Regions from separate parts of the Homo sapiens genome. Here region 2 is linked to region 1. Evidence: fine-mapped expression QTL. Tissue or cell type: whole blood. Region 1 holds a variant in brackets; the other region holds the start of a gene. All regions are shown on one strand. Distances are between the middles of the regions.

Evidence for each region. PIP is the estimated chance that this variant, and not a neighbour inherited with it, causes the effect.
Region 2: LRWD1 starts here. The variant in region 1 is fine-mapped to the expression of LRWD1 in whole blood (TOPMed, PIP 0.98).

The regions. Positions count from the first base shown.
Region 1 is chr7:102,429,409-102,435,642 of GRCh38, reverse strand. ORAI2 (ORAI calcium release-activated calcium modulator 2) reads right to left here and starts at 2,068. Exons shown (of 4, transcript NM_001126340.3): 1 at 1,982-2,068. RefSeq lists silencers at 1,659-2,438, 2,469-2,608, 4,007-4,301. The variant T/C (reference allele first, on the strand shown) is at 3,486.
Region 2 is chr7:102,461,736-102,467,275 of GRCh38, reverse strand. It overlaps LRWD1 (leucine rich repeats and WD repeat domain containing 1), which reads right to left and starts at 2,292. Exons shown (of 15, transcript NM_152892.3): 1 at 2,116-2,292; 2 at 1,225-1,459; 3 at 1,006-1,122. The coding sequence starts at 2,195. It overlaps ALKBH4 (alkB homolog 4, lysine demethylase), which reads left to right and starts at 2,413. Exons shown (of 3, transcript NM_017621.4): 1 at 2,413-2,562. The coding sequence starts at 2,440. MIR5090 (microRNA 5090) reads right to left here and starts at 1,534; the gene lies at 1,450-1,534. RefSeq lists enhancers at 416-475, 839-1,364, 1,642-1,741, 1,365-1,891, 2,021-2,670 and a silencer at 2,082-2,511.

The DNA.
Region 1 (6,234 bases):
AAATAGCTGGGTGTGGTGGCAGAGGTTGCAGTGAGCCAAGAGCACACCACTGCACTCCAGCCTGGGCAACAGAGCGAGACTCCATCTCAAAAAAAAAAAAAAAAAAGAGGGGGGGGCAATCCTCATCCACTGAGCTAAAGGCTTCAATGGAGGGCAGGGAGCAGAGGACTGGCTGCCTCACACCAAGGCCAGGAAAAGGTGCTTGCAGGTAACACCGGGGAGGGGACAGAGCGGCCCTTTGCATGCCAAAGTGCCTCATGCCTGTAATCCCAGTGTTTTGTGAGGCCAAGGTGGGAGGATCACCTGCGGCCAGGAGCTGGAGACCAGCCTAGGCAACAGAGTAAGACGCTGTCTCTAAAAATAATTTTTTTTGACATGGGGTCCTGCTGTGTTACCAAGGCTGGAGTGCAGTGGCACAATCTCAGCTCCCTGCAAATTCTACCTCCCAGGCTCAAGCGATCCTCCCGCCTCAACCACCCGAGTAGCTGGGACTACATGTGTGTGCCACCATACCTGGCTAATTTTTGGTATTTTTGGTAGAGACAGGGTTTTGCTATGTTGGCCAGGCTGGTCTAGAACTCCTGAGCTCAAGTGATCCGCCCACCTTGGCCTCCCAAAGTGCTGAGATTATAGGCATGAACCACTGCGCCTGGCCTCTAAAAAGAATTTTAAAAAAGAGGGACCTTTCCTCAAAGACAAGATGCTGCCTGCATGGAAGGATTCCGAGAGACGGGAAGGCCACTCCAGGTGTACATGTGGGGTGGCTCTCCTTGTCCAGGAGATATGGAGGGAAGACTGGCTGCCACCTGGGGGGTGGAGGGGGCAGGGAGATGTGGGTGGAAGACACTTGGAGCCTGGGGCTGTGGAATGAGCCAGAGGGTCTGGGCAGCATGACTGGGCGTCCAGCCACAGGAGAATGGAAGAAATTGGTGAGTGGAACGGTCTGGGCACTGCTAGATCATTCTGGTTTGGGACCACAGTTCAACCCAGGGAAATGGCTGGCCGACTGGCAGGAGTGGGACGCAAGGGAGAGCCTGGTGGCCTCCAAAGGAAGGAAGGGTGAACAAGAGGGATGCCCCATCAGTAAGGGTGGGCTGGGCTCAGGTCTGAGAGTGGAGGTGAAGAGCTCAGGGCAGTGAGGGCTGAGGGTGGCTTCCTGGGAGCCGCCAGGCCTCCCATGCCCCATCGGTGAGGCCCTGCAGATGTCCCCAGAGTGGGTGGGATTGTGGAGGAAACGATGTCTGTCTGCCTGGAGCTGGGTCTTGAGACAGGTCTCCAGGTCTCGAAGGAGCAGCCCAGGAGGGGGTTCAAATCCATCCTTTATGTTCCCAATGCCAACTGTGTGTGCCAGGCCCGGTGGCCCAGGGGGAGGGACAGAGTCTGGGCCTCACACTGGATCCCAGGCAGGGGGTGGGGTGGGGCAGGATGGAGCCCTGTACTTCTGTCAGGTGGCACAGACCCTAGAGGATGCTCCGGGACTGAACCTTGTGGGGTTGCTTTTTTTTTTTTTTTTTTTTTTTTGCTTTAATGAGCAGTCCGAGAAAACAGGTCTTGTAGAATAACGCGATCCCCTCTCTAGAGATGAGCTTTTCTTCCTGGCTGGCCTACTGGACACATTTCCAGAGGGCGGTCTTGGAGTTTGACTTCCTCTAAGCATCTGGGGCACCGGCAATGGCGAGTGTCTCTCTCCAGCAGGCGCACTGGGAGGGGGCCTCCCAGGGGCGCTAGGCTGCATCCCTGTCCCTCCCCCAGGGACGCCCCGGTGTCCGGAACCGGCTGCGCCGCCGACCCTGATCCTCTGGGCGCCGCACCCCGCCAGGGATCCCGCGGGGTGGAGGTCACCAACCCCGGATGGGTAGTGACCGCGCCCGGGCAGCCTACAGTCGTCCCCTTCCCCGCCGAGCGTCCCCGGTCCAATTCCGGCCCCCCCAGCCGCAGGGACCCCGCTCCCCGCGCCAGGCCCCCGCGCCGCCACACTCACCGGAGCTGCCCTCGCCCCGCCCGGCTCGGCTCCCGCTCGGACTGCGTGGCCGCGTGGCCTGTGGCCCAGTGGCCCGGCCGGGGCGCCGAGCGCGGCCCCCTCCCTCCTTCCGCCGGTCGCGCGGGGTCCCCCGGCCCCGCCTCCACCCCGCCCCCGCGGCCGCCGCAGCCGCTGCCAAGGCAACCAGGCGCCGCCAACACGTGACCCACCCGCGGGAGAGCCGCGGCCACGTCACCCGCCGGGCCGGGAGGGGCGGGGCTGGCGGCGCCTCCTCGGAGAGTGGGGGGGTGGGGGTCCCCGCCTCACCTGGAACCACCCCGGGATCGCGCGAGGGAGAGGAGCAGGGGAGGTGGGAAGACCCCGACCCGCGCGCATCCCTCCTGCCCCAGCTCCTGTCCCCGGCCCCAGCTCTGGGAGTCAAGGCGAGGCCCCCCACCGCCCCATCGGGGGTCCGGCTACCCACAGACCACGAGCTGGGCTTTCCCTGCCCCTGGGTCCGGGCGCAAAAGGGGAGCCCCAGGCTTGGCAGGGTGAGCCTCGGGGGGTGCCCAGCATTGGACGCTGGCTGCGTAGAGGGGCGGGGAGTGGGGACAGGGCGGGCGGGTGCAGGTGGGCAGTGGAGGGGAAAGGAAGGTGGGGAGGGGAGAATCCGTCTGGCCACGCCCGAGTTTTCACAGGATTTTTTTTTTTATTTTTTTGAGACAGGGTCTGGCTCTGTCGCCCAGGCTGGACTGCAGTGGTGCGATCACGGTTCAATGCAGCCTCGAATTCCTGAGCTCGAGTGATCCTCTGCCCTCAGTCACCCAAAGTGCTGAGGCTACATGTAGGCAGGAGCCACCACACCGTGGTAGTTTTTAAAAAATTTGTTTTTGTTTGTTTTTTGAGAGGGAGTTTTGCCCTGTCACCCAGGCTGGAGTGCAGTGGTGCCATCTTGGCTCACTGCAACCCCCGACCCCGGGGTTGAAACGATTCTCCTGTCTCAGCCTCCGAGCTACAGGTGCACGCCACTAGCCTGGCTACTTTTTTGTATGTTTAGTAGAGATGGGGTTTCACCATGTTGGCCGGACTGGTCTTGAACTCCTGACCTCAGGTGATCCTGCCTGCCTCGGCCTCCCAAAGTGCTGGGATGATACATGTGAGCCACTGTGCCCAGCCAAAAAAAAAAAAAAAAATTCTTTTTTTAGAGATAGAGTCTTCCTGTATTGCCCAGACTGGTCTTAAACTCCTGGCCTCAAGCAATCCTCTCTTAGCCTCTCAAAGCACTGGGATTACAGGCATGTGCCACAATGTCCAGCTAATTTTTAAATTTTTTAAAAAAATTGAGATGGGTCTTGCTATGTTGCCTCTGCTGGTCTCGAACTCCTGGGCTCAAGTGATCCTCCCACCTCAGCCTCCCAAAGTGCTGGGCATAGAGGCATGGGCCACCTTGCTTGGCCCCTGCCCAGGGTGTTGGATGGCACCATGAAGAGCTTGCACTGAGCTAATTGGGGGTTGCCACCCAGAG[T/C]GCACTGCCACTCACAGACCCAGCGAGACCCCTGGGGTCCCAACTTCAGTGCAGCGTGCTGTCCTTCTCATGCTGTTCGCAGACAGCAGCAAAGAGTTTCTGCTGTGCCCTGGCCCCTTCCACTCCCTACTGCAGGGAGCCTCTCACCTTTAACGGTGAATTCTCTGCGGTTTTACGAGCGAGGCAGTCAAACAGGAGCATTCTTTTCAGGAAGTGCAGCACATGAATAATTCACAGACAGACAAGATGGGTTCCTATCAGCCCGGCGGTGCCAGACGGTCCCTTGGAGTCCTTCCTCCATGCCGGGTAGGCTGCTGCGTGCCCTACATAGGATTTTTCCATCTGTCACAACAGCATTGGACCGTGACACATTTATCCAAACGAAGGAAAAATTCCACTCATGTCAGCCAGCCCACATTTTATGACAATTGGAAGAGTAGATGTTACGGACGCCAGGTTAAATCCATCTACACTTCGAGTTGTCTTTTACAGGCTACTGCTGACAGCCAGAATGAAACCAGGAGGACACTTAGTCTAATAAACCAGGTTTCCCCCTCCGGGTTACTGACCTAAAAGGCAAGTTAGGCCCTAACATGGACATAAGCAAATCCCAGGGTTCCTTACTGGCCCTCCTCCTGCCACCCCCATCAATGGCTATGGGTGAGGGAACATTTGAATTTCAGGGGTAAAGTCCTCAAAAAGCAATCATGTTATGGCTTTCCAACGTGGAGTTCTTGGTAAAATGAATCTCGGTGGCTCATGCCTGTAATCCCAGCACTTTGGGAGGCTGATCACCTGAGGCCTGGAGTTCAAGACCAGCCAGGTCAACTGGTAAAACCCCATATCTACTAAAAATACAAAAATTAGCCAGGCATGGTAGCGCACGCCTGTAGTCCCAGCTACTGGGGAGGCTGAGGCAGAAGAATCGCTTGAACCTGGGAGGCGGAGGTTGCAGTGAGCCAAGATCACACCATTGCACTCCAGCCTGGGCCAGAGAGCAAGACTCTGTCTCAAAACACACACACACACACACACACACAAAACAGGAAGAAAACACTTTGTAAACGCAGTAGTTTGCATCATAGATGAATGTGCTTTCAGCAAAGGAGTCCTTTGCTTGTTGAATTCTCACTCTTGCAGCGACTTCACTCATCCTTGAGAAAGCTTCCTGTGCCCGTTACTGATGCCGCCACCCCACAGGCATATTTATCCAGCATGCCCAGACAGAAGCAAAATGCAAGTTGTAATTGCCAGTGCTTTGCAGAGTTGGTTTCCTAACCAAACACAGAATAGCTTGCTTGCTTGCTTTTCTTTCCCTCCCTCCCTTCCTTTTCTCTTTTCTTTCTCTCCCTTCCTTCCCTCCCTCCCTCACTTCCTTCATTTCTTTCTTTCCCCTCCCTTCCTCCCTTCCCTCCCTTCTCTCCCTTCCCCCCCTTCCTTTCCTTCCTTCGTTCCTTCCTTCCCTCCCTTCTCTCCCTTCCCTCCCTTCCTTTCCTTCCTTCGTTCCTTCCTTCCCTTCCTTCCTTCCTCCCTTTTTCTTTCCTTTCTTTCTCTATCATATTTATGAGACAGAGTCTTGCTCTGTTGCCCAGGCTGGAGTGCAGTGGTGCCATCTTGGCTCACTGTAACCTCCACCTCCTGAGTTCAAGCGATTCTCATGCCTCAGCCTCCCAAGTAACTGGGATTACAGGCACGGGCCACCATGCCTGGCTAATTTTTGTATTTTTAGTAGAGACAGGGTTTCACCATGTTGGTCAGACCAGTCTCGAACTCCTGGCCTCAAGTGATCTGCCGGCCTCAGCCTCCCAAAATGTTGAGATTACTGGGGTGAGCCACCATGCCTGGCCTATAATAGCTCCTTCTTTTTGAGATGGAGTTTCGCTCGTCATTCAGGCTGGAGTGCAATGGCATGATCTTGGCTCACTGCAACCTCCACCTCCCGAGTTCAAGCAATTCTTCTGCCTCAGTCTCCCAAGTAGCTGGGATTACAGGCGCCCACCAAGTTTTTGTATATATTTTTTAGGAGAGATGGGGTGTCGCCATGTTGGCCAGGCTGGTCTCCAACTCCTGACCTCAGCTGATCTGCCTGCCTAAACCCAGAGGATGTTTCAGCTGTCAGCCCTGTCATCGGGGACCCCTCCTTCTACCAGGAAACCCTGTTCCTTGGCTCCAGTGAGTCTGCCTGCTTGTCCCCCCATTTTCTGTCCCCTCGATATGCGATTCTCAGGGTTCTGTCTGGGTCCCTCTCCTCTCTTTGCTCCTCCCTGACTGGTTTCATCTACTCCCATAGTTCCAAGGACCAGGGCAGCCTGACAACCCCATCATCACCTTCAGCCTTGATCTCTCTTCCCAGCACATATGCCTAGGGCCCTCCACTTTACCAGGCCCACAGCCGAATCTGTCATCTTCCCTCGCATTCCTGCCCCACCGCCTGGGTCAGCTGTCTCAGAAGGGTTCCCTCACCCACTCAGCTGCTGGCACCCATGAGTCCTCTCCCCATCGGGTCGTGACAATTCTCCCACCTCCACATTGCTGGACTCTCCCTTACTTCTCCCTGTCCCCACTTGCTTCTGCACTAACTCAGGCCACCATCACCTCTGGTCTGCATGGCAAGGCAGGAGCCCTGTCCCCTTCCACAAACTCAAAGGTCCCCCATGTCTCTCCATTCCAGCCCCTACCCTGTGGCCTTTGAGACTCCAGTCCCCTGATTAACAGGGTCTGAGGCCATGGCAGGGCGCCTCCTCCCTCC
Region 2 (5,540 bases), 32 kb before region 1:
TCTCAGGGAATCTCAATCCCGCCACCTGCTGGAAGCCTCCTGGAATCACAGCCTCATAAAACACACACACACACACACACACACACACACACACACACACACACCCCACACACACCCCAGCAACAACCCAGGTGCCTACACACACACACACACACACCCCAGCAACAACCCAGGTGCCTACACACACACACACACACACACACACCAGCAACAACCCAGGTGCCTATAGTCCCAGCCACTGGGAGGCTGAGGAAGAAGCATCGCTTGAGGCCAGGAGTTGGAGCCTGGGGAACAGAGCAAGATCCCATCTCTACAAAAAATTTTAAAATGATCCAGACGTGGTGGCATGCGCCTAAAGCCCCAGCTATTCAGAAGGCTAAGGCGGGAAGATCGCTTGAGCCCAGGAGTTGGAGGCTGCAGTGAGATACGATCACACCACTGCACTTCAACATGGGCAGCAGAGCGAGACCCTGTCTCTAAAAAAAAAAAAAAAAAAAAAAAAAAAAAAAAAAAAAGGTAAAAAAGAAACACCCCAGAAAAAGCTACTTAGAAGAGTCAGGCCGGGTGTGGTGACTCATACCTGTAATCCCGACACTTTGGGAGGCCAAGGCGGGCAGATCACCTAAGGCCAGGAGTTTGAGGCCAGCCTGGCCAACATGGTGAAACCCTGTCTCTACTAAAAATACAAAAAAAATTAGCTGGGCATGGTGGCAGGTGCTTGTAATCCTAGTTACTCGGGAGGCTGAGGCAGGAAAATCACTTGAACCTGGGAGGCAGAGGTTGCAATGAGCCAAGATCGCATCACTGCACTCCAGCCTGGGCGACGGAGTGAGACTCCATCTCAAAAAATAAATAAATAAATAAAGTAGCACATCAGGCTAGGGGCTGTTGGGGCAAAGAGCCTCTATCAGTCACCCTCCTCAACATCCTCCTGATGTCCAATTCTATCATTCTCCCAATGCCCCCACAGCTCCTAAGCACACAATAATCCTCTCATCCCCTTACCCTGCTGGTCAGCTCCCGATTCAGGTTCTCCACCTGAGAGTAAGTTGAGGACGCATCCTTGCCATTGACCTTACGGAGCGTGGGCAGGAGAAAGGAGACTTTCAGGTTGTCATTGACCTGGGGAAGAGAGGGTGAAGAGCAGTGGCTCAGGAGATGCTGAGCCTGAGCCCAACAGAGTCCTGGCCCCAGGTATGAAGCTGGTGGGAGGCTCCCACTTACCGTCAGGAAGGGGTTGCCCTCCAGGCTGAGTTCCTCGAGCTTGGGGAACTGGCACAAGGCAGTAACATCCCCCAGCTGGTTGTTGGCGCAGCGGAGGACACGCAGGTGGGACAGGCCCAGGTTGTCCGGCAGCGTCTCCAGGTGGTTGTTAGACAGGTCAAGCTCCTGCAGCTGCGTCAGGCGGCACAGGAGTTTGGGGTCCAGGTGCTCGGAAAGCAGCTCCAATCCTGACAGGCTGGAGTTGGGGGCAGAAGGCTTAGGGGGCGGGCAGGCTTTGCACCCTACACCAATCTGCCCCGGGTACCTCAGAAGGCTTTTTCACCTGACATTTCTCGTACAAGTGTAGCCGCCCCGCCCATCCCCCCGTTACTTTATTTTTAGAGACGGGGTGTCACTCAGTCGCCTAGGCGCGATCATAGCTCACAGCTGCCTCCAACTCCTGGGCTGAGGGATCCTCCCGCCTCAGCCTCTCGAGTAGCTGGGACTAGAAGCGCGCGCCACTACTCCCGACTCCACACCACTTAACAAAAAAAAAAAAAAAAAAAAAAAAAAAAAAAAAAAAGCTGCAACTACTTTAGGACTCGGGGGCATCCTAGCCCCCTCTAGGATGCTCTTCCTGATCCTTCGGGGGCTCGTCTGTGCTTCCCAGGCCCTCTAACGATAGCGGCAGGCTGTGCCCCTAACTGTCCGGGCTCCCTTCAGGGGATGAGGCCCCTCGGGGCTCCCGGCGAGCGGGTGGGGCCACGATCTCCCAACAAGAAGACATTTGGACCACTCTGCCGAACCCAGAGGGCGATAACGGGGACAAGCGGGCCGTTGGGGAGGGTCCCCGCTCTTCTCCCCGACCGCCCGGCCCCGAGGACACAGCCTCACCCGCTGCCCGGCTCTTACTCCAGACTCCGGATCTTCCCCAGCCGGTCGCTCTTGGGGCGCCCGCGCTGCATTAGCAGCCGCGCCGAGAGGGGGCCCATGGCGAGGAGGCGCAGCCCGCGCTGACCCAGTCGGCCACCCCGGCGTGTGGCGTCGCCCTGCGTCTCCTGGAGCCCGGCACTGGCGTCCGCGGTAACTGAGCCCAGGAGGCGGCGCCGCGCGAGCCCGTGGGCGTTAACGACCGGAAGGAAGCGGAACCCAGGCCTCGTGCCCCCGCCCGGCGCGGACTACAACTCCCAGCGGCCCCCACGGCCGCGCCTGCGCACTGGCCACGCGGACGGCGCGATGGCGGCGGCTGCCGCCGAGACCCCCGAAGTCCTTCGGGAATGCGGTTGCAAGGGCATCCGGACCTGTCTGATCTGCGAGCGGCAGCGCGGCAGTGACCCGCCCTGGGAGCTGCCCCCAGCGGTAAGGGGTGGGAGAGGGGCCGCGCCCACAAACGTCGCTCTGCATCTGGGGAAACTGAGGTCCAGCTTGGCCATGATAGGGGCCGGGATCGAAGCCTGTGAGGGACCCTTACGGTAGGGGTGATGCAGGGTGAGGAGATGAGGGCTTTAAGGAGCGGGCTTGGGAGTGGGGAAGGAGCTGGAACGTGGGTGGGTTCGATTACAGGTCACCTCGGGGACTCTGGGGGGATCTGCCTGTAAACCTCGACGTAGCCTCTCGGGTCTGGCGCTGGGAGCTTCACGGGCCTGCAGGGAGATGACACGGAAAGGGTCGATCGAGGGTGCTGAATACCAGTCCAACGGTGCCTGAAGGCCGTGGACTGCAATGGGCAAGGAGACAGTGAATTCCAGTTAACTAACGAAAAGGAACTCAAGGATCGCTGCAACCCAGGAGCTGGAGGCTGCAGTGAGCTATGATCGAGCCACCTCACTTCAGCCTGGGCGACAGAGCGAGACTCTGTCTCACAAAAAGAAAATAAATAAAAAAAGAAAAAGAACTCAGCGCCTTTGGGCTGGCATGGAAGGACTGTGGTTGGTTGCAAGGGCATTCCAACCCAGAAAACTGCGTGGGGTAGGAAGGTGGATTGGTGATGCCTCAGGTGAGAGAGATGAGGCTGGAGAGGTTGTGGGGGGGGGGAGGTCTGATCACAGATGCTCCCCGGTGCATCAGCTGAGCAGGCTGGACTTGTCCCAAAGGCCCTGGAGAGCTCTTGAAGGGTTTTAAAGGAGTGATGAAGTCAAATGTGAATTTTAGAAAGATCCTGGGAAGGGAACGGGCAGATATGAAGGTGTGGAGGCTGGTAAGCCAGTGAAGACTGCCCCAACGTCCATGGTAAAAGTGCCCAAGGTCCTATGGAAACAGCATGGCATGCCTCATGAATTAAACATAGAATTACCCATGATCCGCAATCCTGCTTCTGGGTATATATCCAAAGGAACTAAAAGCAGGGTCTGGAAGAGATATTTGCACACCCATGTTCATATTCACGACATTATTCATGACAGCCCAAAGATGGAAGCAAACCAAGCATCTATCAAGATACCTGGGCCGGGTTCAGTGGCTCACGCCTGTAATCCCAGCACTTTGGGAGGCTGAGGTGGGCAGATCACCTGAGGTCAGGAGTTTGAGACCTGCCTGGCTAACATGGCGAAACCCTGCCTCTACTAAAATTACAAAAACTTGCCGGGCTTGGTGAGGCACATCTGTAATCCCAGCTACTCGGGAGGCTGAGGCAGGAGAATCGCTTGAACCCAGGAGGCAGAGGTTGCAGTGAGCCAAGATCGCACCACTGCACTCCAGCTCAGGTGACAGAGCAAGACTCCTTCTCAAAAAAAAAAAAAAAAAAAAAAAAAGAGATGACTTGATCCACAAAATGTGGTGCATACACATAGTAGAATACTATTCAGCCTTAAAAAGGAAGGACAGGCCGGGCACAGTGGCTCACACCTGTAATTCCAGCACTTTGGGAGACCGAGGCAGGCAGATTGCCAGAGCCCAGGAGTTTGAGACCAGCATGGGCAACATGGTGAAATCCCACCTCTACAAAAAAATTAACCATACATGGTGACACGTACCTGTAGTCCCAGCTACCCAGGAGGCTGAGGTGGGAGGGTTGCTTGAGCCTGGGAGGTCAAGGCTGCAGTGAGCTGTGATCACGCCACTGCACTCCAGCTTGGGCAACATAGTGAGACCCTGTCTCAAAAAAAAAAAAAAAAAAAAGGACATTTTGACATATGTTACAGCATGGACGAACCTTGGGGACACGATGCTAAGTTAAGGAAGCAGTCACAGAAGACAAATACTGCATGATTCCTGTTGTGTGAGCTACGTAGGGTAGTCACAGGGACAGAAAGTAGAAGGGTTGTTGCCAAGGGCTCAGGAAGGGGAGATGGGGACCTGTTGTTTAATAGGGAAAGAGTTTCAGTTTTGCAAGATGAAAAAGTTCTGAATGGTGGTGACGGCTGTACAACAATATGAATGAACTTAAGAGTTTTAATTTGTGGAAGGGGCCAGGTGCGGTGGCTCATGCCTATAATCCCAGCCCTTTGGGAGGCTGAGGCAGGAGGCTCGCCTGAGTCTAGGAGTTTGAGACCAGCTTGGACAACATAGCAAGACCCTGTCTCTACAAAAAATTTAAAAATTAGCTAGGTGTGGTGGTGTGTGCTTGTAGTCCCAGTTACTTGGGAGGCTGAGGTGGGAGGATTGCCTGAGCCCAGGAGGTCAAGGCTGCAGTGAGCTGTGAGCGCCACTACACTCCAGCCTGAGTGACAGAGCGAGACCCTGCCTCAAACAAAAAAAAAGAAAAGAAAAAAATTGCGGAAAGTCTGACCCGTTCCAGTGGCCATGTGGAGGTGACATCTTCCCAACCCGATGGCTATGGAACAAGGAGAGTGAGGTATCCAGGATCTCAGGGCACTGGGGCAGTTCCTCACTGGCTTTCCAGCCTCCACCCTTCATATCTGCCCCTCCCCCCTCCAGATCTTTCTAAAATTCACATTTGACCTCGTCACTCCTTTAAAACCCTTCAAGAGCGCTCCATGGCCTTTCGGACAAGTCCAGCCTGCTCAGCCGACACACGGGGGACTCCCAGTTTTAATGTTTCCCGTGGGAGGGCCCCAGGAGCAGGAGGAGATAGTGCCAATCTCAGGAGGGGTCTGAGCTGGAGTCGGTGGCTGGAAGTAAAGCATTGGAAGGGGCTGAGGTCCCTGGAGGGAAGAACAGAGAAAGACAGCGGCCCACAGTGAGTGGCAGCCCAGGGTGTGAGGAGCCTGGAGATGGAAGAGGAAGAGGAGACAGGCCACAGAGCCCAGGGCTGAGTTCTGGTGGCCTCCGAAGTCCTCACTGGGTGACTCCGGCCAGAACCTCCACACCTCCTGCCCATGATAGTTATGGTACCTTCCTCTTGGGGCTGTCCTGGGGATGAAACTAGATAATCCATG